Homo sapiens: one gene and its partners. The protein of the gene in region 7 interacts with the protein of the main gene of each other region in a pairwise test. Each region holds a gene or a part of one and is shown on either strand. Other genes may lie near its edges.

What was found.
Region 1: the proteins of CEP57L1 (region 7) and CEP70 interact in binary tests that used the Homo sapiens proteins (3 or more experiments, as listed by UniProt).
Region 2: the proteins of CEP57L1 (region 7) and FAM161A interact in binary tests that used the Homo sapiens proteins (3 or more experiments, as listed by UniProt).
Region 3: the proteins of CEP57L1 (region 7) and ROPN1 interact in binary tests that used the Homo sapiens proteins (3 or more experiments, as listed by UniProt).
Region 4: the proteins of CEP57L1 (region 7) and FAM9B interact in binary tests that used the Homo sapiens proteins (3 or more experiments, as listed by UniProt).
Region 5: the proteins of CEP57L1 (region 7) and CEP63 interact in binary tests that used the Homo sapiens proteins (3 or more experiments, as listed by UniProt).
Region 6: the proteins of CEP57L1 (region 7) and CFAP206 interact in binary tests that used the Homo sapiens proteins (3 or more experiments, as listed by UniProt).

The regions. Positions count from the first base shown.
Region 1 is NC_000003.12:138,497,053-138,500,260, forward strand, and holds part of CEP70 (centrosomal protein of 70 kDa), read right to left. Parts: intron 3,173-3,208; coding exon 3,058-3,172; coding exon of another isoform or gene 3,045-3,057; exon of another isoform or gene 2,832-3,044; intron 1,059-2,831; coding exon 979-1,058; coding exon of another isoform or gene 812-978; exon of another isoform or gene 284-811; intron 276-283; coding exon of another isoform or gene 211-275; exon of another isoform or gene 1-210.
Region 2 is NC_000002.12:61,847,561-61,851,060, reverse strand, and holds part of FAM161A (protein FAM161A), read left to right. Parts: intron 1-3,500. UniProt on the Homo sapiens protein: Involved in ciliogenesis.
Region 3 is NC_000003.12:123,971,820-123,975,124, forward strand, and holds part of ROPN1 (ropporin-1A), read right to left. Parts: intron 1-3,305. UniProt on the Homo sapiens protein: Important for male fertility. With ROPN1L, involved in fibrous sheath integrity and sperm motility, plays a role in PKA-dependent signaling processes required for spermatozoa capacitation.
Region 4 is NC_000023.11:9,027,628-9,031,127, forward strand, and holds part of FAM9B (protein FAM9B), read right to left. Parts: intron 2,970-3,500; coding exon of another isoform or gene 2,941-2,969; exon of another isoform or gene 2,734-2,940; coding exon 2,634-2,733; intron 1,792-2,633; coding exon 1,680-1,791; intron 340-1,679; coding exon 241-339; intron 1-240. UniProt on the Homo sapiens protein: May play a role in meiosis.
Region 5 is NC_000003.12:134,492,557-134,496,056, reverse strand, and holds part of CEP63 (centrosomal protein of 63 kDa), read right to left. Parts: intron 762-3,500; coding exon of another isoform or gene 737-761; coding exon 693-736; intron 1-692. UniProt on the Homo sapiens protein: Required for normal spindle assembly.
Region 6 is NC_000006.12:87,414,472-87,417,971, forward strand, and holds part of CFAP206 (cilia- and flagella-associated protein 206), read left to right. Parts: intron 1-1,214; coding exon 1,215-1,403; intron 1,404-2,197; coding exon 2,198-2,356; intron 2,357-3,500. UniProt on the Homo sapiens protein: Essential for sperm motility and is involved in the regulation of the beating frequency of motile cilia on the epithelial cells of the respiratory tract. Required for the establishment of radial spokes in sperm flagella.
Region 7 is NC_000006.12:109,158,007-109,161,506, reverse strand, and holds part of CEP57L1 (centrosomal protein CEP57L1), read right to left. Parts: intron 2,483-3,500; coding exon 2,405-2,482; coding exon of another isoform or gene 2,354-2,404; intron 2,290-2,353; coding exon of another isoform or gene 2,239-2,289; coding exon 2,045-2,238; intron 936-2,044; coding exon 791-935; coding exon of another isoform or gene 777-790; intron 1-776. UniProt on the Homo sapiens protein: Centrosomal protein which may be required for microtubule attachment to centrosomes.

The DNA of each region.
Region 1 (3,208 bases), on a different chromosome or scaffold from region 7:
AGTTTCATACCTCATCTCAAGTTTAACTTTCAAATTACATTTTCACTTGCTGTGATCTTTTTAAACATGAGGACAAGCCTAAAGCAAGCTCACTCATTGTCTCCCTTGCTTCCCCACTGCACATAAGACTGGTCACAAAACTTCCTTTATGTTCAGTAGGCTATATATTCTAATTAGATACTTCTTTCACTTATTCTTCTTATCAAGTTTTCATTGACTCATTCCCTTATTTTCATACCAAGCTTCATCTCCTCTTCTAAAAGCAAAGAGCCATTCTTTAAAAAAAAAAAAAAATCTTTCAAATGAGCTATACAGAAAAAATTCACTGGTGAATACATCACTTTAAAACTTTAAAAATCATTCTTAATAGTAAGATAAATAATTTTATAGCCATATGTAATTATATTTAAACTAGATAAGGTCTCTATTTTGCCTTATGAGTCCTAAGCAAATTTTTTCCTTTTAGGAGACACTACTACTAATGAAGCCCTCAATCTGACCCTCAGTATAAGTGTAATATTTCATCTTTTCCTTTCCACAGATATTTATGACTTTATGTTACTTCATATAACCAGAGAGGAAATATTATTTGTATATTTAAAAAATTTTGTAGATAGGTGGTATCTTAAGAAAAAAAAAGGAGGGAGGAAGGACCTTCTAAGATCATAAATCCTAAGAATATTTCTCATTAGACAATGACAGAGCCAGGGTTAAACTAGGCATGGACAGAATGATGCCATCTCTCATGATAAGGTCCTCCAACAAAGGTAGTTCCTATTGCTGTTAAGGGTCTGTGTTTCTGTTCTATGGACTAATCCAAACAAACTCTAACTGCTTGTAAGGAATGTGTTTCCAGAACTGTTAGTGGTTTCCAACCACTAGGTAAAAATACTAATCCAGTGACCAAGGAACACCCTTTTCTTAAATGCACTGACATTTTAAGACTCAAAATTTCACCATCACCACCAGAGATCTTACCTAAGATTTCAAGTAGATCATTAGTAAATGCCTGAAATGCTGGGAAAAATTCCTCGTGTTCTTCCAATTTGTAGATAATGCTGTTTAAAAAATGCACAATTTAAACCTGATTTCTAACTTTGGGTTCTTGCATCTGATTGCAAACAGAACATTTTCAAAATAGAAACTATATTGCTAATTTAAATATAAACTTAATGATCATTTACTACAGTCTTTTCTTTCTGAGCTTTTTGTTAATCCAATATCACTTTTCTTAAAAAAGCATTTCAATATCAATGTAAAATTTGTTAAATTCATATATAACATTCTTTTTTTTTTTTTTTTTGAGACAGAGTCTTGCTCTGTCACCCAGACTGGAGTGCAGTGGCGCTGTCTCGGCTCACTGCAAGCTCCGCCTCCCGGGTTCACGCCATTCTCCTGCCTCAGCCTCTCGAGTAGCCTCCTGTAGTGCCTGCCACTACGCCCGACTAATTTTTTGTATTTTTAGTAGAGACGGGGTTTCACCGTGTTAGCCAGGATGGTCTCAATCTCCTGACCTCGTGATCCGCCCACCTCGGCCTCCCAAAGTGCTGGGATTACAGGCGTGAGCTACCACGCCCAGCCAATATACAACATTCTTAACATGGCAAATTTCCCATTAAGCTCAAGGCTTCTTAGATCATGCTTTTACAGCATTTTCTAAAAATAATTGGCTTTTACACCCAGTATCCTATTAAACATTAAGAAAAAATATCAGGCTGGGCACAGTGGCTCATGCCTGTAATCCCAGCACTTTGGAGGCCAAGGCAGGAGGATCACTTGAGGTCAGGAGTTCGAGACTAGCCTGGCCAACATGGTGAAACCCCACGTCTACTAAAGTACAAAAATTAGCTGGGTGTGGTAGCGCATGCCTGTAACCCCAGCCACTCAGGAGGCTGAGGCATGAGAATTGCTTGAACCTGGGAGGCGGAGGTTGCAGTGAGCTGAGACTGAGCCACTGCACTCCAGCCTGGGCAACAGAGTGAGACTCTGTCTCAAAAAAAAAAGAAAAGAAAAAAAGAAAAAAAATCAGTAGTCAGTAAAACTGTGGGAAGGAAGAAATAGGCCAATAGCAAGATATATGTTCCTTTTAAAAGCACCAAGTGTCAGATTATGTAAGGGTTCTTCTAGGAAAACTTGCAAAACATATGGTTTATGTGGTATATATTGTGTGTTTCCCTTCACATATGCTGTAATATAAAATTGGGGGTCAGGTGTGGGGAAAGTTGCTTTAACTATAGCTACAATGTCTTGATATTTTCTAAAAATACCAGCTTTTATGTTATAGATGCCTAGTCTTTTAAAAACTCCTCAACATTTATCTTCTAATCAAATAAATATACTATTAATGATTATTCAGTGGTCTATGGTAGTGTCCTAAAAATAGAACTTATTGATATAATCAGAACTTACATGATGTTGCTAACAAGGTTTGAATTTCTCCATATATAATATTTCCTGAAAACAGGCTTATGCTGAAGAGTACCTGACCTTCTTTATAGGCCTTACAATCTATTTTTATCTTGAAAATATTTGGCATTTCCTCCATCCCTAAGGGTTTGAGATTATCTTAGATTGTCAAGTTACTTAAAAGATGCTATTCCAAGGCTGGGCATGGTAGCTCACACCTGTAATCCCAGCACTTTGGGAGGCCAAGGCAGGCGGATCACTTGAGCCCAGGAATTTGAGACTGGTCTGGGCAACATGGTGCAACCTTGTCTCTATCTCTCTCTCTACACACACACACACACACACACAAATTAGCTGGGCGTGGTGGCGTGTGCTTACAGTCACACACACACACAAAAGATGCTATTCCAAACAGGGAAGGTAAATAAGTTTTGAAAGTCTTTAATTTCACCCCTCCAGGAACTCTCGATAATACTTATTTTAATTTTTATTGTTTAGAGACAGGGTCTCACTGCCTTGCTCAGACTGGACTTAAACTCCTGGGTTCAAGTGATCCTCCCACATCAGCCTCCCAAGTAGCTGGGACTACAGGCGTGTGCCACCACACCCAGCCATTCTGGATGATACTTTGTAAACTTTTAAAACAAATACCTCTGGAGGTCTTCAGGTCCTAATACCTGCATAACCTGCTCATTCACATCTTCATTAATCAGCCTACAGAGTTTTCCAACAGTGCTTACTAGCACACACAATGAGGATGAACTATCTGCAAAAGAGAAATAAAAGGATATTTTAACAGAGA
Region 2 (3,500 bases), on a different chromosome or scaffold from region 7:
CTCTACTAAAAATACAAAATTAGCCGGGCGTGGTGGCACATGCCTGTAATCTCAGCTACTCAGGAGGCTGAGGCAGGAGGATCGCTTGAACCCGAGAGGTGGAGGTTGCAGTGAGCCGAGATCACGCCATTGTATTCCAGCCTGGACAACAAGAGCGAAACTCCATCTCAAAAAACAAAAAATGAACAGACACATAACTATAAGATGGGAAATGTTGGGAAAGAAATGAACAGCCTATAATGATTAAAAATAAATAGGAGAGAACCTATTGTTTTTCTTCTGACTCCACTTTTTATTTATTATTTTTTGAGACAGAGTTTCACTCTCTTGTCCAGGCTGGAATGCACTGGTGCAGTCACAGGTCACTGCAGTCTCAACCTCCCAGGATCAATCAATCTCCTCACCTCAGCCTCCCAAGTAGCTGGAACTAAAGGTGCATGCCACCACGCCCAGCTAATTTTTATATTTTTTGTAGAGACAGAGTTTCACCATGTTCCCCAGGCTGGTCTCGAACTCCTGGGCTCAAGTGATCCACCTGCCTTGGCCTCCCAAAAGTGCTGGGATTATAGGCGTGAGCCACTGTGCCTGGCTCCACTGTCGATATACATACATACATACACATATACACACATACACACGAACGCACACACACATATATTTTTTTGAGATGGAGTTTTACTCTTGTTGCCCAGGCTGGAGTGCAGTGGCGTGATCTTGGCTCACCACAACCTCCACCTCCCAGGTTCAAGCGATTCTCCTGCCTCAGCCTCCCAAGTAGCTGGGATTACAGGCGTGTGCCACCACGCCCGGCTAATTTTGTATTTTTAGTAGAGACGGGGTTTCTCCATGTTGGTCAGGCTGGTCTCCAACTCCTGACCTCAGGTGATCCGCCCGCCTCAGCCTCCCAAAGTACTGGGATTACAGGCATGAGCTACCATGCCTGGCCTATATTTTTAAATTCACCTGTTATTTTAGATACAGAGGTGCATGTGCAGGTTTGTTACATGGGTATATTGCATCCAGGTAGTGAGCATGGTACCCAATAGATAGTTTTTCAACCTACGCCGCCCTCCCTCCCTCCCTCCCTCCCCACCTGGTGGTAGCCCGCAGTGTCTGTGGTTTCCATGTTTATGTTCGTGTGTACTCATTATTTTACCTGCCACTTATGAGAACATGTGATATTTGGTTTTCTGTTAATTTGTTTAAGATTATGTCCTACAGCTCCATCCACGTGGCTGTGAAGGACATGATTTCATTCTCTTTTTTTTTTTTTTTTTGTGATGGAGTCTCGCTCTGTCACCAGGCTAGAGTACAGTGGCACAATCTCGGCTCAATGAGACCTGTGCCTCCTGGGTTCAAGTGATTCTCCTGCCTCAGCCTCCTGAGTAGCTAGGACTACAGGTGCACACCACCACACCTAGCTAATTTTTGTATTTTTAGTAGAGACGGGGTTTTACCATGTTGGCCAGGATGATCTTGAACTCCTGACCTCAAGTGATTCGCCAGCCTTGACCTCCCAAAGTGCTGTGATTACAGGCCTGAGCCACCATCCTGGCCTAATTTTTTTATTTTTATTTTTATTTTGTAAAATAAAGGTCTCACTATGTTGCCCAGGGTGGTCTCAAACTCCTGGGCTCAAGCAATTCGCCCTCCTCGGCCTCCCATAGTGCTCGGGTTAGAAGTATATGCCACCATACCAGGTGACATTCTTCTCTTAAAATATCAAATGTTACATATGACGCTTAGGCCCTTTTAACAACTCTCCCCCAGAAGAGAAAATATGAATACCTACTCCCTCCCTAATGGTAGCCACTGTTTCAAAATTGATATGTATTCTATTCTCTGGCCGTTTTTCTATCTCCTCCATATATTTTAATATACAGTACATACTATATAAATATATAAATAAATATATAAATATATATAAGTATATAAATATTTAAATATATATATAAATATATATATTTAAATATATATATAAATATATATATTTATATATATATAAATATATATAAATATATAAATATATATATAAATATATATAAATATATAAATATATATATAAATATATATAAATATATAAATATATATATATATAAATATATATATAAATATATATAAATATATATATATAAATATATATAAATATATAAATATATATATAAATATATATAAATATATATATAAATATATATATAAATATATATATAAATATATATATAAATATATATAGATATATATATATAAATATATATATAGACAGAGAGAGGGAGATAGTTCTGCAACTTGCTTTTTTTTCTTATTTATTGGGAGTTTACCCATGTTAGTACATGTAGATCTCTCTCATTCTTTACAAATTCAGCGAAAAAAATTTTTTCAAAAATTACAGGTTGCAGATGAAACTATATAGGCTGCAGCACAAATAATTCTTCATAGGTGCTGATTACTAATAAAGCAACAGGTACTGGAAGGATTCATTATCTAAATGGGTCAAGCCAATCTAGGGAAGATTATCCTCTAATCTGGTGGCTGCATTTACAACATTCCACAAAAAGCCGATTAAAGGGAGAGGATGCTATTTTAGGCTCTTGGAAAAATAATGTCTATGGCCTAGGTTATTTTGTATACTAAATATTTTCTCAGTGGAGACAATTAAAGATTAAATTAGAATTGGAGGTCATTTACTAGCCATTCATCTGTTTTAGGTTAAACACTGTGAGATCAGTTTATCTGAAAAGTTTCAGCTAGCGTTAACAGTATTAAGCTGAAAACAGAATGGATCCAGTGCAAAATCAGTACATAAGTATAATTTATCAGACCTGCCGCATCTTTCAGAAGCTACTCATTCTTCTATATGGTTTTCAAACGGTTCTTCCAGGTCCAAATAAATTTGATCCTTCTTGTGTAAATGACTGCTATAAGACATGATTTTTAAGAGATATTCTAAAAGAATGAATGAGAGCGCATAGATTCTTTTGCTTAAAAACAGTTCTTTGAAATACCCTCCCTGTTTTAATTATAGTTTTTGGAACATAGGCCTTTTTCTTAATACTTGGTGGAATATAGCTCTTTAGAGCAGCCAGCATTTCTTTGCATGGTTCATTCTTTTGGGAGGGAGTAACTGCCCTCTTCCCAAGGTGGAATTTTTTTTTTCTGTACATTCATTCATTCATTCAGTAAATATTCCTTGAACATCTGCCATTAGCCAGGTACTTTTCTAGACACTGGGGACACAACATTAAACAAAGCAGACAAATCCTTGCCTTTCTTTTTGTTTTGTTTTGTTTTTTTGAGACAGGGTCACACTGTTACCCAGGCTGGAGTGCAGTGCCTCCATCATAGCTCACTGCAGCCCCAACCTCCTGGGCTCAGGTGATCCTTCCGCCTCAGTCCCCCAACTAGCTGGGACTATAGGTGCATACTACCTCACCAAGCTAATTTTTTGTATTTTTTGTAGAGATGAGGCCTTGACGTGTTACCCAGGCTGGTCTGAAACTCCT
Region 3 (3,305 bases), on a different chromosome or scaffold from region 7:
GTATGGGCTGAATTGTTCCCCCTAAAGTTCATGCCAAAGCCTTAACCCCAGAACTGGAGAATGTGATTGTATTTGAACATACGACCGTTAAAAAGATAAGTTAAAATGAAGTTAGTAGGGTGTCTTTATAAGAAGAGGAGTTAGGATATAAAGAGAGAGCCACCAGACATGTAGGCACAGAGGAACACAGTTTGAGAAGCTGGCCATTTTTAAGCCAAGGAGAAATGCCTCAGAAGAAAGCAATCCTGCTGACAGCTTGTTCCCAGAACTGTCCTCCAGAACTGAGAGACAACAAATTTCTGTTGTTCAAGCCACCAAGTCATGGCAACAAACTAACATAGCGGCTTTCAACCCTAAACATCATCTTTTATTGATTATTCAAACTACAAACCTTCAAATTCTACTGCCTCATAAGATTTTTAAGTATTTTTAAAGATTTAATAAATGGATGAGTGTATAAATAACTCTTTGGACTGGAGCTATTTGGTAAACTGACATAAACCTAAAGTAAACAGATCTTCATTCTCTTGCACAATATTTTTTTGGGATCCGCTTCACAGACATAATCTTTAAGCATCTTGCGAGCTTCATTTTCAAAGTTAGAGGTGAAAGCCTTGAAATGTAAATCGTTTGCTAACAAATATGTCATTCCTTCCAGTGAACATGATTATTTTCTACATACGTGATCTCTTCCTTTTTTAATAATCAGTTCAGTGGAACAGGAGGTGGCATAGGCCAGTCCAGAGGAAGGAGTGCTGAAGGGAGGAGGAATACAGGTCTGCATGCCATCGCATTCTGAATAATGTGTATTAGACGCAGAGAGCTCAAGATGGAGTAAATGTACCTATTACCTACCAGAGTAAAAATTCCTGTTACTAGATCTTCTACAAGGAACAAACTGGCTTTTCTGAATGGCATAGAGATCTTGTCTTGCTATTGAATTGGCAAAGGAAAGAGAAATTCTGGGCTTGCCTCTAAGGATATATGAATTAACTAGGATGCAAGGTCTCCACCAGATGGTGACCCCTGACTTAGTCTCAGCTATAATAAAATACCTTAGACTGGGTAATTTATAAACAACAGAAATGTATTGCTCACAGTTTTGGAGTCTGGGAAGTCCAAGACCAAGAGGCCAGCAGATTTGCTCTCTGGTGAGGGCCTGTTCCTCATGAATGATGCCTTCTATGTGTCCTCACTTGGTGGAGGGGCAACTTTTATAAGGGCACTAATCCCATTCATGAGGGCTCCACCCTCATGACCCAATCAACTCCCAGAGGCCCTACTTTTAAGGCCATCACCTTGGAAGTTGAGATTTCAATATATGAATTTTGGGAGAACACAAACATTCACACCGTACCACTGGCCAACCCCACATTTAAGATCCCAGAAACAGTCCAGCTCCAGCATGATAGAAATGAATATAAGGGTATTGATTACTGGTTTCATAGGACACCCTTTATTTGCAGATTTAACCTCCAGGCTGACTTTATCTCTAGGGGTTCTTTGACATGGGGATGATGAGGAGCAAAGTCAGATATGTCAAGGCCTCTTAGAATTGGAGGAGCTCACTGTTATTCAGAGGTGGGCCTGAGGGTGTCTCAGAGGAAGCAGAGAAGTGGGGATAGAATCACAGGATGTCAGAGGTAGATGAACCTCATGGAATATTGAATCCCACCTCCTTATTTTAGAAGGGAAGTAGAAAGATTCAATTCACCTCATGGTTTCCCCTCTCCAGTTTGGGAGGCAGGTACATCAGAGGAAACCTAGCATCTACACCGTGGGCTAAGCAGAGGGAGGGTTGGAATCTGACTTTCCAAAGTCACTCTTTGTTACTGTGAGGTATGGGGATAAGGGAAGAACTCAGACACACCACACACTGGTGAGGGTCTGTGAAGTAGACCACCAGAGCCAGGGAGCAGATAGGACAGCCTGGCAGAGAATCAAGGAGGCCCTCGACACCATTGAGAACTGAAATGAGCCAGTTGGGGAGGCATCATCAGCCTTTCACCAGTCCGGGAGAGACGAGACCAAAAACTTAAGCTGCAAGCAGCTAGCGACCAGACAGACAGGCATTACCATGGAGACCAGAGATGCCAGGGAAGACTAAGGGATGTGAGAAACCCTTCACTTGACTGCTCTGTGGTCCTAGAGTCAGCTCTTTCTGCCTACATTCAACTGCCATCTTGGAGAAGAGAGCGTGGTGAGGAAAAACCTGAGATACTGGGAAATTTACCTTTAGGCTGTTTCAGTTACTGCATCAGACTAAAATTTCAGGATTGGATTGAATTTATTTATTTTCTTATTTGACCCTTTGTGGGTGGGGTAGACCAAGAAGATCCAAATTAACTACAGATAAAATTTTAAAGGTATATTTTCCCCCAAAAACGTCTCCAAATGTGGTGTGAAAAAAATCTGTAACCCTATGAGAATTTAATAAAATATGTTCATTTTTTATCTTCCTGTTTGTGATTTTCCCCAGTCCTGACTGACAACTCATAGGCCTCTGCTGCTTACTTTCCTTTCCTCCTCAGAGGATAGTGATTTATTCAGTAATAAATGCTATAAAGGACAATGAAGAAAGTGCCACAAATGTCCTCTTGTTTACTTCTCTCTAAAGAAATGATTATGATGAAGGCTGTAGGGGAATCTATAGGAAATTTGGACTACAATATTTCCACTAAATTTTCTCAGAAACAAACCTGTCAAATATGTATTCCAAGCATATTTGAGAAGAACAAGATTATGTTTAGATATGCTGAATGATTCAGACTACCTTTTCATACCATTTGGTTTTGGCAGAGGCAATTATTTTCTCAATAATTTTCAAACTTGTATGTATCTCAGGGATTCTTTTAAAAAAACACGTTTTTGATTCATTTTAAGTTATTTTAACAATGTTTAGCAATGTAAGTCCACATATAAGATACCCAAGCTTTAAATATCTATACATATAAGCTGATTTCAGCATCTTTGGCTTCAAAACAGTAAAATTGCATTTCCAATATCAAACAAGTCAAATTTGGAAAAGGCATAAATCTGTATGAACATCCTGCATCCATGGAGATGTCATGACTAAATTCAGAAATAGCCTCATCTCTCTTTTTTTTTGCTTTCTTATGTCTGAGTTCTGCATCCAATTCTGTTTATTACATAGTTTTCGATAAGATTGTACCCCTTTTAAACAGTGTCTATTGATATATATTCTAGGTGTCTGGAAGTCTTTTTCTACAGTCGGCTCTTGGTTGTCTCTGGGAATATGAATGGAAGGAGCGGAGTGAAAATAAATCTGAGGGCAATATTCATAA
Region 4 (3,500 bases), on a different chromosome or scaffold from region 7:
CTAGGTAAAATTTCCAATTTACCTTTTCCTGTTCTAAATAACTCCCACAAACTATTCATGAATCCTAAAAATACATTTACCAATTATATTATATCTGGAACAATACATTCAAAGTGAAAATGCTAAGTAATTTGAAATGTATAATCAAATGTCTTTCCATACATTCAGAAACAAGCAGACTGTCTTCTATTATGCACGTGTTGTATTTTATAATGTATTATGTTACCAAATAGAACAGACCTTTACGAATTGGTCACGTAGCAGCTTCATCTCTTTCAGCCTCTCTCTCCTAACACTTCTATATTGTTGCCACTTCTTCTGTTGTTCTTGAAATATTCTCTAGAATCCCAAAACAAAATAGTGATAAAAATTGGGTAAATTTTAATACTTACAAAACATAATTCTGCATTAGCTTTAAAGGAATACTGTTTAAATCAATACCTCTGAACACTTTCTTTTAGACAACATTTAGGACCAATTTTAAACAATTGTGTTCACCAATAACATGCTAAAATGATGTATTAACCTTTTTTATCAGTCATTAAGTAAAGAATTTTCTTACTTTTACACATTCAACACATATGTCCTAATTCTTGATTTCCAATGAAGAGTATTTGATGAACCTTCCTATAATTTGTTGACCACAGATAGGTAAGATCTATACAGAAATTAACTAAGAAAAATTCTTTCTAAGATTTTAAGCATGTATTAAATCTCGGTCATTTCAATATGCACATAGATGAACCACCCAATAATGATTGCCTTTCTGCACCCTGACCTAATCTCCAACAACAGTGTTCTCCTCTCCTCTACGTGGCACTCACTCACACAGTCATCCCCTAGATTTTGTCATTCCCAATGACTTCAACACCTACGTAATATTAATAATAGCAATGATAAAGAGCAACCATGGGTCAGATCACATCCTGAAAAACTTAAATAAACCTGTTACACAGAAACCCTTTGATCCTCCAAACAACTCTGACGTAGGTACTCTTACCATGTCTCCTTTCGTAGATAAGATAATTTGCCCATGGTTTCCGAGCTAGCAATGGTCAAGCTGAGATAAATAATTTTTCCATGGTTTCCGAGCTAGCAATGGTCAAGCTAGAATCCCAAGCAGTGTGGATGCATAGTCCCAGCCCTTGACCACTGCACTCAGCTGTTTCTCCAACTTCCCAACATACAGCCACTACCTCCCTGCCATCGTAGGTCACTCACTTCAGTACTACAGCTCAGGAGTCTGTTGGGACCTGACACCCACTGAATGGAGCACTTTTTACTGCCCATTGCCCACTCCCGTGTGCTCAGATAACTCAGTCCCAGCTGAAATTCCACAGCCAGTCATCATATCCCCATCTCTGCATCTATTCCCTGCCCAACTCTCCCTCTATCAATCTGCTCGGCTACACCCCGACCCAGGAAATTCCAACCCTACAGCTGTGCTTGCACAAATATGCCAACTGGGCTTACTTTAACTTCTTCATCGTTATGATGCTGACTTCAGTTGGACCCCTAATGCTGCGTGGCAATTATATTCCCCTAGTCCATTAGTCCACTAACGGGCCCCCCTCTCTGGGCTCATGCGCTCTTCCTTCTTTGCTGGATTTCTGCATGAACTATTACTACCTGAGACACTGACATAACAGGTTATACATAAAGCTAAGCATGATACCAACAATTAGTTCTTCCTCTTCTCCCTCTTCTTCTTCTTCCTCTTTCTGCTCGTCTGTGATGTATTCTTCAAGGACATTTAGCAACTTCAGAGAATGTATATAATCACGTTTCTGCCTGTAACACATAATAAGTAACACGGTCATACGTCATAGAGAGATGAAAAATTAATCCTATTCAAACCCAAACTGACTTGACATAATTTATACTATAAAGTAGCAAGGGAGTAATAGCAGCTGAAATCTTCTTTTTGGAAAAAAGTGAAATGAGTTACTCTCATTTTGAAAGGATTCTTTTCTTCCTGACTACTAGAGCAGCTATCTTACATTCTTTACCTGCTGAAGACAAAGGAGGGTTTACTGCACTATAACTTTCCCAGAAACATTTTCTCTAAGAGCAGTTTACTTTCCATTTCCTCTTACTGAATAACATATGGGTTCTCATAAGTAGGTTCAAGAATATCATAGCCATTCATCCCATAAGATTTCCCAAAAGAAAAACTTCACTTAACTATTTCTCCACTTTGGCACACCAATGATTTTGTAAAAGAAATAGTGAAAACAATTTAACTAAAATAGATAACTTATTTACAACATAAGGTTATCCCTTTCTACATAATTGAGTATCGTTAAGGATCTACAGACTAAACATTGAGAACATTTATCTTATATGCAGCTACCATATTTCTAGAAATGGATAAACATTAATTTTACAAGAAGGCTATTTTTATCTGGAAGGCAAAAAGAGGTCATCTTCATTGGCTTCTAGGTAATATCTCTTAATTCTGTTAAACTGAGGTTATAAAACTAAAGAAACTTACCTACTTAGAGAACAATCAAGTAAAATATGTTGTTCACTAGAGACGCCAATATGTACAGGATAGTTTTTGAAATTATTTGCACCAACTAATACAAAGAAATGATATAAATATCATTATGCAAAAAAGCCAACAGTCATACCTTTTAAGTTGCTTTTTTCTCAAAGCATGTTTACTTTTGTTCTTTGTTTTGCTGCAAGTTTTATCCATTTTCATCCTTTTTCTTTTTGCAGTAAGATCCTCTTTAATGTCAGTTAGATAGTAAATGAAAATGGATTAAAAGTTAATGTTGAAAAGTAGTTTCTTTGCATATACTGACATCAATATGGGACTTTATGGTTCAGCAATTTCAGAAGGATATTTAAAATATAAAATGCAAAGATCATTTCAAAAAGCAAGATTTACTCACTTATTTTCTGTAAAACCTTTCAGGTATTAACATTCGCATTTCAATTCCAGTTGGTATAACTGAAAATCACTTAATTGACAGATGATGAAAAAAAGCAAATAATTAAAAGTCTCTATTTTTTAAATGTGCAGAAAGAGTTATAAGCACAGACTTTAATTTCTACATTTATAAAATGTCCTACAATTCAAAGGAGATGCTTCCATGAAATACTGCACAATTCATTACGTAAAGCACACAAAAAAGTATCTTATATAATAGAACCCTCAAAAGGGTAGAAATAACTTAATGCACAATAAGAAAAGCATTTTTAAGCAATCTAGTGATTGATGCTATTAACTGTATTTTAATAAAAGAAGCAATGGCCATGAGTATAAAAATTTAGGTTTAGGTAAAGAAATACATTCAAAAACACTTTTGAAATGTTTTCTTGGAGCTTTTTATGACATTTGTACCCATAGTGCTGTGTTTCAGAAAACTGTAATACTGCAAGGAATGCTTTCCTAAACATGATTTCACATCAGAGCTCTACCATCAATTGCTAAGAATAATTTTCAGCAATCATAAAAGATTTGTACCACAATGCAAATATTTTTTACATAC
Region 5 (3,500 bases), on a different chromosome or scaffold from region 7:
TGAAAGGGATACTTGTACCCCCATGTTTATTGCAGCATTATTCACAATAACCAAGATATGGAATTGACTTGAGTGTCCAACAGCAGATTAATGGATAAAGAAAATGTCAGAAATATATCCATCATGGAATACTATTCAGCCATAAAAAAGAATGAAGCCCTGTTATTTGCAGCAACATGGATAAAACTGGTGGTCGTTAAGTGAAATAATAGGCACAGAAAGACAAATATCTCATGTTCTCATTCATATGTGGGGTCTAAAAAAGTTCACCTCATGGAGGTAGAGAGTAGAACGATGGTTACCAGAGGCTGGGAAGGGGTTGGGGGTGAAGAATGTTTGGTTAATGGGTACAAACCATACAGTTAGGTAGAAGAGTAAGCTCTAGTGTTAAATAGCACAGTAAGGTGACTACTAAGTAACTAGTATGTAACTAGTTAAGTAATTAGCACAGTCGGGTGACTAGCACAGTAAGGTTCCTTAAACTTTAAAAATTTACTATATATTTCAAAGTAGCTAGAAGAATTGAAATGTTCCCAACACAAAAAATGATAAATGCTTGAGCTGATAGGTATACTAAATACCCTTATTTGATCATTACACATTATATGTATGTATCAAAGTATCATGTGAACCCTATAAATATGTAATCATGTATTAACCAAAAAAATTAATTTTAAAAAAAGCAAACTTACCCACCATGCCCTCGATTTTGTATTCCTTCTAACAAAGCCTCCATCACCAAATCCCCTTTGTTTTGGCAACTGACAAAGAAAAAAATATCAGTCATGAGACAATTCATTTCTTCAGTTCTAACATTCTAACTTACAACTTAAGAATGTGAATGAAAGCATACATAATAATGAAAAAATGCAGCACTTCTTAAGATGACTGTAGAAGCAGTCAAAGAACATCACTTCAGGAATACTAGGAACAAACTATTTCGGACTAAAACAGAATAACTTAAAAATATCTGAATTGCGGTTGACACTCTCTCCGTGTAAATATCAAATATCTCATTGTTCTTTGCCTAATTCCTAATGTCGGGTGAGCAGGGGTGGAGGTGGGATCTCTCTAGCAGACGGATACACAAACTCCCTTAACAAAATGAGAAAGAAATGGGTTCACACATGTCAGAGGGAAAGTATAGCTTTTTAAAAATTAAAGAGATAGTATAAAAAATGCGAAGTGTACTGAGATTAAACTCTTTGGTCTATCATGGGAAAGCCTACTCACTCCTGAAGACAGGCTCATAGAGCTTCCTGCATGCAACATCCTCTCTCCACCGAAAGGCAGCCACAGGGCCCTCCCACCTCTGCACTTCATTTGCTCCCAGTGCTTAATACGTTCTTTCATAGGAGTTGCACCACACTGGAAGTGAGTTTTTTACATACTATTTTTCCTTACTAGACTATTCATCCCTCCAGGGCAGAAACCCAATTTTATTCATCTCTGCAGCTGCAGAGCTCAACGCAGCATTTCAACATGGCACGTGGCAGATTATTTTGGCTGAACTTAACTCCCCTCCCTCTTTTACCTACCCTCTCCCCCATGCAAACTGGTCACAGCTGGGGAACTACATGAAGGGTCTAGCAGAGAAAGAGGGAACGGGAGATAGAAGACTGCCATATAAACAGCAAGATACAGTTGGGTGCGGTGGCTCACGCCTGTAATCCTAGAACTTGGGAGGCCGAGGGAGGCGGATCACCTGAGGTCAGGAGTTTGAGACCAGCCTGGCCAACATGGTAAAACTCCGCCTCTACCAAAAAAAAAAAAAATTAGCTGGGCATGGTGGCATGCACCTGTAGTTCCAGCCATGGGGAGGCTGAGGTAGGAAAATCGCTTGAAGTCGGGAGGCGGAGGTTGCAGTGATCCGAGATCACACCATTGCACTACAGCCTGGGTGGCAGACAGAGATTCCATCTCAAATAAATAAATAAATAAATAAATAAATAAATAAATAAATATAAAATAAAGGGTAAGATACACCATGAAGAAAGGTGACAGTGAGAAAGGAAAGAGGACCCTTAAACTCAGTAGTGTTGATTAATATGTGTATGCTTCTCGCCTTTTATAATAAATCTTCAAAATGTTCAATGTCAAACCACTTTTCATTCCAAAATGCTTTTTCCTTAAACCCTTAAGACAATAACCAGACTGTGGTGTAGAGGTTCTGCCCCTGGGCTAATCCTCATCTAAAAATTATACTGCTGTAAGAAGTAGATTATTTTACTCAACACGTAATTCAATGTTGTACTAACAACTAGATATATAGTGATGAAAGATATGGCCCCTTTCAAGGTATTAATAGTCTAGTATGGGACAGAAAAAAATGAGCCAAAAAGGCTTTCCCAGTGTGATAAATATAGTGAGAGACATGCCCAGGGTGTTCCAGAGACACAGAGGAGAATGAGAAGACTGGAAAATAGAACCACTGCACCTTATTTGCATCTATTTTTAAAGATACTAACAAACTGAGTATTAAATTATTTGTGCACAAACGTGACAGGGAGGATTTTTTTTCTAGTTGGTTTATCCTACATATTACACCAAAATTGCAAAAATAAAAACCTAAAGAAAAAGGTTCCCATGTTTTACTCCACTTTCAAATCACAATACAGTCCAACTACAATGCAACCAAGATTCCATGTTTTGGTCCACTCTAGGAGAACTGGGAGGCAGTACACGGTCCACACCACACTAGATGGAGACCCAGGATACAGTCCTACTCTGCAACTAACTAGCTTTATATTCTCGGACTTGTTTTAACATCTGCAAAATGAGGGGCATGAACAATATTCTCTAAGGTTTCTTCCAGCTTTTTCATGGGTTCTAACAGCCAATTAAATGTCCACTGTAAGTAGCATGCTCCTGACAACCATACACGGATACTTAACTAACATGTAGGAAAGTGCTATTCTTATTGACAGTGCTATCACAGTTATTCAAAATTATCATTAGTAAAATTATACTTATTTAGGTCATGTTATTCTTAAACATTAATATATTTAGTAATATACATTAATATATTTTCTATGACTATTTAATAATATACTTAGAAGTTAAGTTACTGAATGTTCAACAGCTGCCTTGTACACATTGTCTAAATCAATCTTCACTATACTCATAAAAGACAGATACTATTACTTTGAGAAAACAGGCTTAGAGAGTTAAATAACTTGACTATGATAAACTAAAAATTATAGTCCTGGATTCAACCTAGACATTGTGGCAATCAATTGAGTCACAATCGATGTGCAACCTTTATATATTTTACAGTATTCTATATCTTAAAATATATCAGCCTATCTTTTGGCTTAATAGTGTCTTTGCAATAAAAAAAGAAATTAAACTGAAGTATGACATCACTACTGTGGCCACCAGGTGGCAGCAGCACAATAATGAAATAGTCACATAAGAAATATTGCTATTTTAGAAATCAAAATGGTCTAAGATAGAGATTCCTGTTTAAAAAAAAAAAAAAAAAGGAGGGAAGTGGACCA
Region 6 (3,500 bases), about 22 Mb from region 7:
ATTCTTAGTAGAGACGGGATTTCACCATGTTGCCCAGGCTGGTGTCGAAATCCAGGCCTCAAGCGATCTGTCTACGCCTTAGACTCCCAAAGTGCTGGGATTATCAGTGTGAGCCACCATGCCTGGCTCATTATGTAAATAATTTAATGCATACATCAAAGACAAGTTGGAAACAAAAGAAAAAGGAAAATGTAATTCTCTATGGACTGCCTCTGCACCTGCTATATAAAACAAGTCTATTTCTCTATGGACTACCTCTACCTCTACTGTATAGTACAATCATTATTAACAATTTGGTGATGTTTCTCTTTGTTAGTTTCAGTTATGCTACCTATGTAAAAGTATATATCTTGCGTTTTTGCTTAATAGTGAAATTTTAAAGCAAGAAATAGTCATATAATTGATAAAATTTAACCTATAGATTTTTAAATTTGTTATTTAAACATATTTTTAATTTGCAAAAAGTTCTCAGTTGGTTTTGTGGCAAGGGTATAGGTATAAACTGTGCGTGGTGGATATGTTAATTATTGACCTTGTAATAGTAATATGGGTTGTCTTATAGAGTCATTGCAGAATTGTACTTGCAACAACTCAGGGAACATAGTGTCCTGCCAAAGTGAAGCCTGTCCCTCAGCATATCACAGGAGGAATGAGGAGGGATACAGTTCTCGATGCAACATCGTATTATCAATAATGCTTTTCAGAGGAAATTTATCTAGAACTGAAATAAAAATACACGTAACCGAAAGGAACATATATACTACATATATATTTCTGCTACTATATATGCTTATGTATAGTATACTACATGTGCTTACATATAGCATAAATATATAATATGTATATATTTATTTTTTCATATAGTATTAAAATTAAAATATATAATATATATTTTGTAGAAATGGTCTTCTTTATTTTCTGCTTAATTGGGAGGTTTTAGCCTTTTCTGATATCTCCTGTTTAGTTTGGCTGTTTAAAGTCTTAGGTGTTTTGACAAAGTATTCCATTTAAGTCACTGTAATAAATCTTCCCTCCTGGATTTTTGTCTTGAGGCTACATGCTGGCCACTGTTTTTTATTTCATTATTACAGCTTAAGAAATTACTTGTTTTCCTGAAGTAGAATTGCCATATCCAATCCAGTTTTTCTCTAGTTCTTACGTAAGAAGAATTCTAAAAATTAAATATATAGAACATTGTTATTTGGCAATTTTAGTGGAATTTCTCGAAGAACATCACCGGGTCCTAGAGTCTAGATTAGGCTCTGTTACCCGAGAAATTACAGATAACAGAGCATGTGCTAAAGAAGAATTGGAAAGCCTCTACCGGAAGATTATCAGCTATGTGTTACTCCGCTCTGGCCTTGGATCCCCTACAGACATCAAGACTGTCAGAGAGGTAACAGGTAAAAAGTATAACCAATTTCCATTTCATAAGTGAAAATATATGGTCATTGTATTTTATAAAACATGTTAAATTAGAAGTGTTAAAGATTGAAGTTCCCTTTTTATCTGAAAAAAAAAAAAAAATCAGCACAAATGAGTTAAAATGTACCCAGTCTCCTTTTACACTGTGTATCCATTCTAAAACTCAAGTAGCACCTCTAGAAAGTGAAATATTGCTAATTTTCCTAGAGCTGTACATATCTAGGCACCTATTACACCCCATTAGAGAAACATTGATAGTAGGATTGAGGGTACCAGGCTGATTGAGTAAATGGAAAAGCTGAAAACGGATATTTCATATTGATGAAAGAAATTGAGTCTGTCATTTAAAATGGGTGATGGAATGGGGCACCATTTTATCCTTAGGAAGTCTTTGCCCTCTTTCATCCTTTAAAATGAGGAATAGGAAAAATGTCTAGCTCTCCTATGGCTTTCTTCCATAATTATTTTAAAGCATCCATTTTTTGGCTCAGATCCCTAATTAGAAAGCTTGTTTTCATGCCCATTGCCAAAAAGTTACTGCTGGATGCTTAATTATTAAAAATGGACATGAGGCAATGGCATAACTCTCAGTAATCCAGCTTTGATGCGTGATAAGTTTTATTATGTATCCTATAATCAGGTATCAGTAATTTAAAGAATCATATAAGTAACTCAGACCCTTAACTTGCTGCTAAAGAAAAACGTTATTTAACGTCTGATATCTTTATTCTATCATTTTGTTTTCCTTTTTTTTTTTTCTGGTTTATTTTAGCTGCTCTACAGAGTGTTTTTCCTCAGGCAGAGCTTGGGACATTTCTAACTCTTTCTAAGAAGGACAAAGAACGCCAGCTGAAAGAACTCACCATGATTGTTACTGGAATTCGTTTATTTAACAGAGACTGTGGAAAAGGAGGAGAAGGCATTGATGATTGTAGGTATATCATTAGATTAATTCTAAAGGTTATGTATGTTTAAAATTTAACTTGCACAGTGAGGAAAATAATAAACAACACACCACTGGCATTCTTAAATTTAAGATTTGCATTTTTTACTGTTTCCTTAAGAATAACTACTGTTTATAATGTGTAGTGATTTTTACTTTTGCTGGGGCAAGACTTTACATTTTATGTACCATGAAGCTAGTAGGAGAAAGTGAATCAGTGAAAGCAATGAAGGGTCCTGCTCAAAGCTAACCTCCCAGTTCAGCAGGGCTTTGTGTTCATTACTGCAAGTCCGTAACCAAAAGGGAGTACAATTTAGTTATTTAAAAAATAAAAATCTTCCTGAAAACAGTTCCTGGTGCAGTTAATGGAATGAAAAGATCCACGAGGAGATATTTCAAATCTCTAAATTCGGGGGCATTTACTTTGTGGTTATATACTTAATGCATTCTTTATAAGTTTGAAAGTACTTATGAAATATTTAATGAAGTACCTACCAGTAGAAGTAACTTCCTTATGAAATTTGGTACTCCTGTAGGCCCACTGATAAGGTGTTAGTGTCTTTCACCAAATCACTAATCTAGTATAAAAGGGTAATTTTTTCTATTTTAAAAACTGTTCTAAAAAGTCAAATTTCCATTTTCATAAATGACCCTCCCTTGCTAGACTATTCTGTCATTTTTCACCATCCAGATGAGTTTCTTAACAAACGTTCCTTTTTTTTTTTTTTTTAATAACTAGAAAAGAAGATATACAAAAGGAAGGGTCAGTGGCTTTTCTGGAAGCACATGGTTAACAACACATAATACCAAACTCTGCCTATTCTCTGAACTCTTCTATATTTAGTGGCAAAAGCTGACCTACTGTAACTGGGTTATCATTCTGTTAATATCTTTTGTTTGAACTTGTTTTAGATTCTTTTTTTTTTTTTTTTTGAGATGGAGTTTCGTTCTTGTCGCCCAGATTGGAGTGCAGTGGCGCGATCTCGGCTTACTGCAACCTCCGCCTCCCGGGTTCAAGTGATTCTCCTGTGCTGGGATTACAGGCATGCGCCACCACGCTCAGCTAATTTTTGTGTTTTTAGTAGAGACGGGGTTTCACCATGTTGGCCAGGATGGTCTCAATCTCTTGACC
Region 7 (3,500 bases):
GGGAGGCTTATTTGTGACATTCATATATCACTAACTTATATGAATGATGATTTTGTCCATAGCCAGATGGCTACATGATGTGACTTGAGGGTTCCTGGGAAAGGCTCCCTCTGCTTTCTGCTCCAGCAGTGTAATAGTGCTGCAAGTTCAACCTACGGAGTCATTGTCTTGGAATTAAATATTACATTCCATGATTTTTCTGTTAAAATAAGAAAACTGTTAGCTATTCTTAGTTATTACATCTTAACATACAAGTGCAGAGTTTTCTTCACCATCCCTGTTCTACTCACTATAGCTAGCTGAGTATAGGACCCCAGGGAATGGAACATAAAACAGCTTGTTTTGGGAAAGGGGAAATCATGCTTTAAGGATTGGGGCACTGCTTGGGAGCCAGGTTTATGTCTGGCAGTGAATGAGAGACCTGCTGACATAAGGGGTATCATTAAGGCATTAGAGGAGAGAAGGAAAACGAAAAAGAATGCTAAAAGGGTAACTGGAGGGCTGCTAAGGCAAGTTTAGTCTGCCTCACAATTTCCCCAAAGCAATTTCTGAATACATAACTGAACTTATTTGCTCACTTAAAAAATTTTAACTTGGAGAGTTATGTAGGAGGTCCATGTTATTCCAATGGGACAGATGGCTCTATTCTGTCATAGGCCTAAGGGATTACCATCCATCTTTTCACTAAATCCCATATACAGACCTCAAATTTGGAAAGTCATACAGAGATACAACACTGAATCCAGATATTTTGTGTTTTTATTAAAATCTCTTACTAAAGCCTTCTTACACTGTCTTGATGCTTCTTCAGTTTGGAGATTTGTTCTCCTTTAATTTCCATTTTCTTGAGTAAACACTCTAGTTCACATTCTATGTCGTCACAGACTGAATGACTTTCAGTTTCCTTCATTTGTTTCAGTAGTTCTTGGTGCTCCCTATGAAAGAATAGCAAATATTAAGCAGTATTATAGTTTATTGCATATATTTCTTTGCCATAATTAAGCAATTTTCTGTTCAATCATAAATTTTAGTCAGAGTTAAATATTAACCTTTAAAAACAGCCTCTTTCTTTAGGGTTAATTAAGTCTATGGTAAATATAACCAGGCTCCTGTGATTTGAAATTAAATACCTTTAGAAATATCTTAAGACGGCTAAGCAACTTTTAAAAACATCTGAATTCCTGATGCTCATAGCTGAATGTAGTAAAATGTATGATGTCTTTAACAGAGGTATTAAAGGGCTTTCTTCCTCGTTATTGATATAGGATCTTTGGAAGAATTCCAGTTGTAGAAGTATCTGCCTGAAAAATTTCTGGATTTGGAGTTAGCCTACTGAAATACTGTTAATAGAAAGAGTTATATCTTCTACAGAAGTCTTAGATCAACTAGCTGGTCAGCCAAATCACATAGTTCTGGAATTTCTGTTGAATATATATTTAAGCAGGTGGGCACAATATAATGTATCCCATATGGAAATCTTCTTTACTATAGATGCTTCAAAATTTGTAATGCAGACCAGCCAGAGTCTAAAACAAGGAATTACATTCCTACTTGTCTAATGAAATAATTCATTCAGCTAAAAGATTCTAAAACACAAAAGGAGAGCCTGTCTTATAAAAGCTTTTGTGAGTTTTAATCTAAGGTCATCAGATCCTGTATGTTAGAATGATAATAATATCTATCAGTCCAGATTTTGGGAATACAGAAATACCTAAGAATGAAAAAGTAGTAGCTATAAAGAATTGAAATTTTAAATAGTAATAAATACAATGAAAAATAGGGACAACAAACTGTCCAAATGGCTAAGTAACGCCTTTAAGAATTTATAAGTGGTATTGTTCTTAAGACTAAGAAGAAAAAGTGATATGGTACTTCTCCTGATAAAGAATAAAAATACTGGCCAGGCACGGTGGCTCATGCTTGTAATCCTAGCACTTTGGGAGGCCGAGGCAGGAGGATTGCCTGAAACCAGGAGTTCAAGACTAGCCTGGGCAACATAGCGAGACACTGTCTCTTGAAAAAAAAAAAGAATATAAATACTTACATGCTCATTTGGTCCAGCTCATCTTGCATTGCCATCAAAAGTTCAGATAAATTGTCACAAATGGAAATGGACTTTTCTGAGTCAGGAGGAATAGCTTTACACCAGGAAGTTGTTCTAGAAGGCTTGGGGAGACATCTAGTCTCAGTCACGTTAAAAGGTTTCTGAAGGATATGTGGGTCACGATGTTGCCTCATCTGCAAAAAGTTTTGCATACTTGCATTCACAGAACAGCTTGCACTGGTAGACTTATGGGAAAAGAAACAACTGAGAATAATTTTAAATGACTGAAGATATTTAAATAGCACTTACAACAAAACAGGAGTTTTTTTGAACGACTATCTTCATTTTATCCCCTCTCACCTTTTCAGCCACAAAAGGCAGTGCTCCAAACTTTGAACAAATTTGCCAAGGTGGTCGTCTCTTTATACATTTAGTTTTCTAGAGATTGGCAAGAAAAAAACGTAAACAAGAAATTATTTTAAAAGTTATTTACGATATGAAGAACTCTCAAAACTCAACAGAAAACAATGCAACTGGAAAATGGGCAAAAGACATGGACAGAAATTTCACTGACATAGACATACGTATGACAAACATACGAAAAGATATTCAACATCATTAATTATGGAAATGCGAGTTAAAATTACAGTGAAATATCACTGCACATCTATCAGAATGGCCAAAATAAAAAACAGTGACAATAACAAATGTTGGCAAGCACACAGAGAAAATAAAATCACTCACATATTGTTGGTGGGAATACAAAATGGTACAGCCATTTTGGAAGACAGTTTGGCAGTTTCTTATAAAACTAAAAATGTACTTATCACATGACCCAACAATTGTTCTCTTACGCATTTATCCTAGAAAAATGAAAACTTATGTTCACATAAAAACCTGTACACAAATGTTCATAGCAGCTTTATTTGTAATAGCTAAAAACCTGGAAACAATCGAAATATCCTTTTTTTTTTGAGATAGGGTCTCATTCTGTCACCCAGACTGGGGTGCAGTGGTATGATCTTGGCTCACCGCAACCTCCGTCTCCCAGGCTCAAGCGATTCTCCTGCTTTTGTCTCCCGAGTAGCTGGGATTACAGGTGTGTGCCACTACTGCCTGGCTAATTTTTGTATTTTTAGTACAGATGGGGTTTCACCATATTGGCCAGGCTGGTCTTGAACTCCTGACCTCAAATGATCCACTCGCCTTGGCCTCCCAAACTGTTGGGATTACAGGTGTGAGCCACCGCGCCCGGCTCCAGATATCCTTTAACAGATGAATGGTTAAATTGTGGTACATCCATAATGCGGAATACCACACAGAAATAAAAAGGATGTACTGATACATACGACAACTTGGACGGACCTCAAGGGAAAAAAGCCAACCACAAAAAGTTACATACTGCATAATTCCATTTATATAACATTCTTGAAATAATAAAATACACAGATGGTGA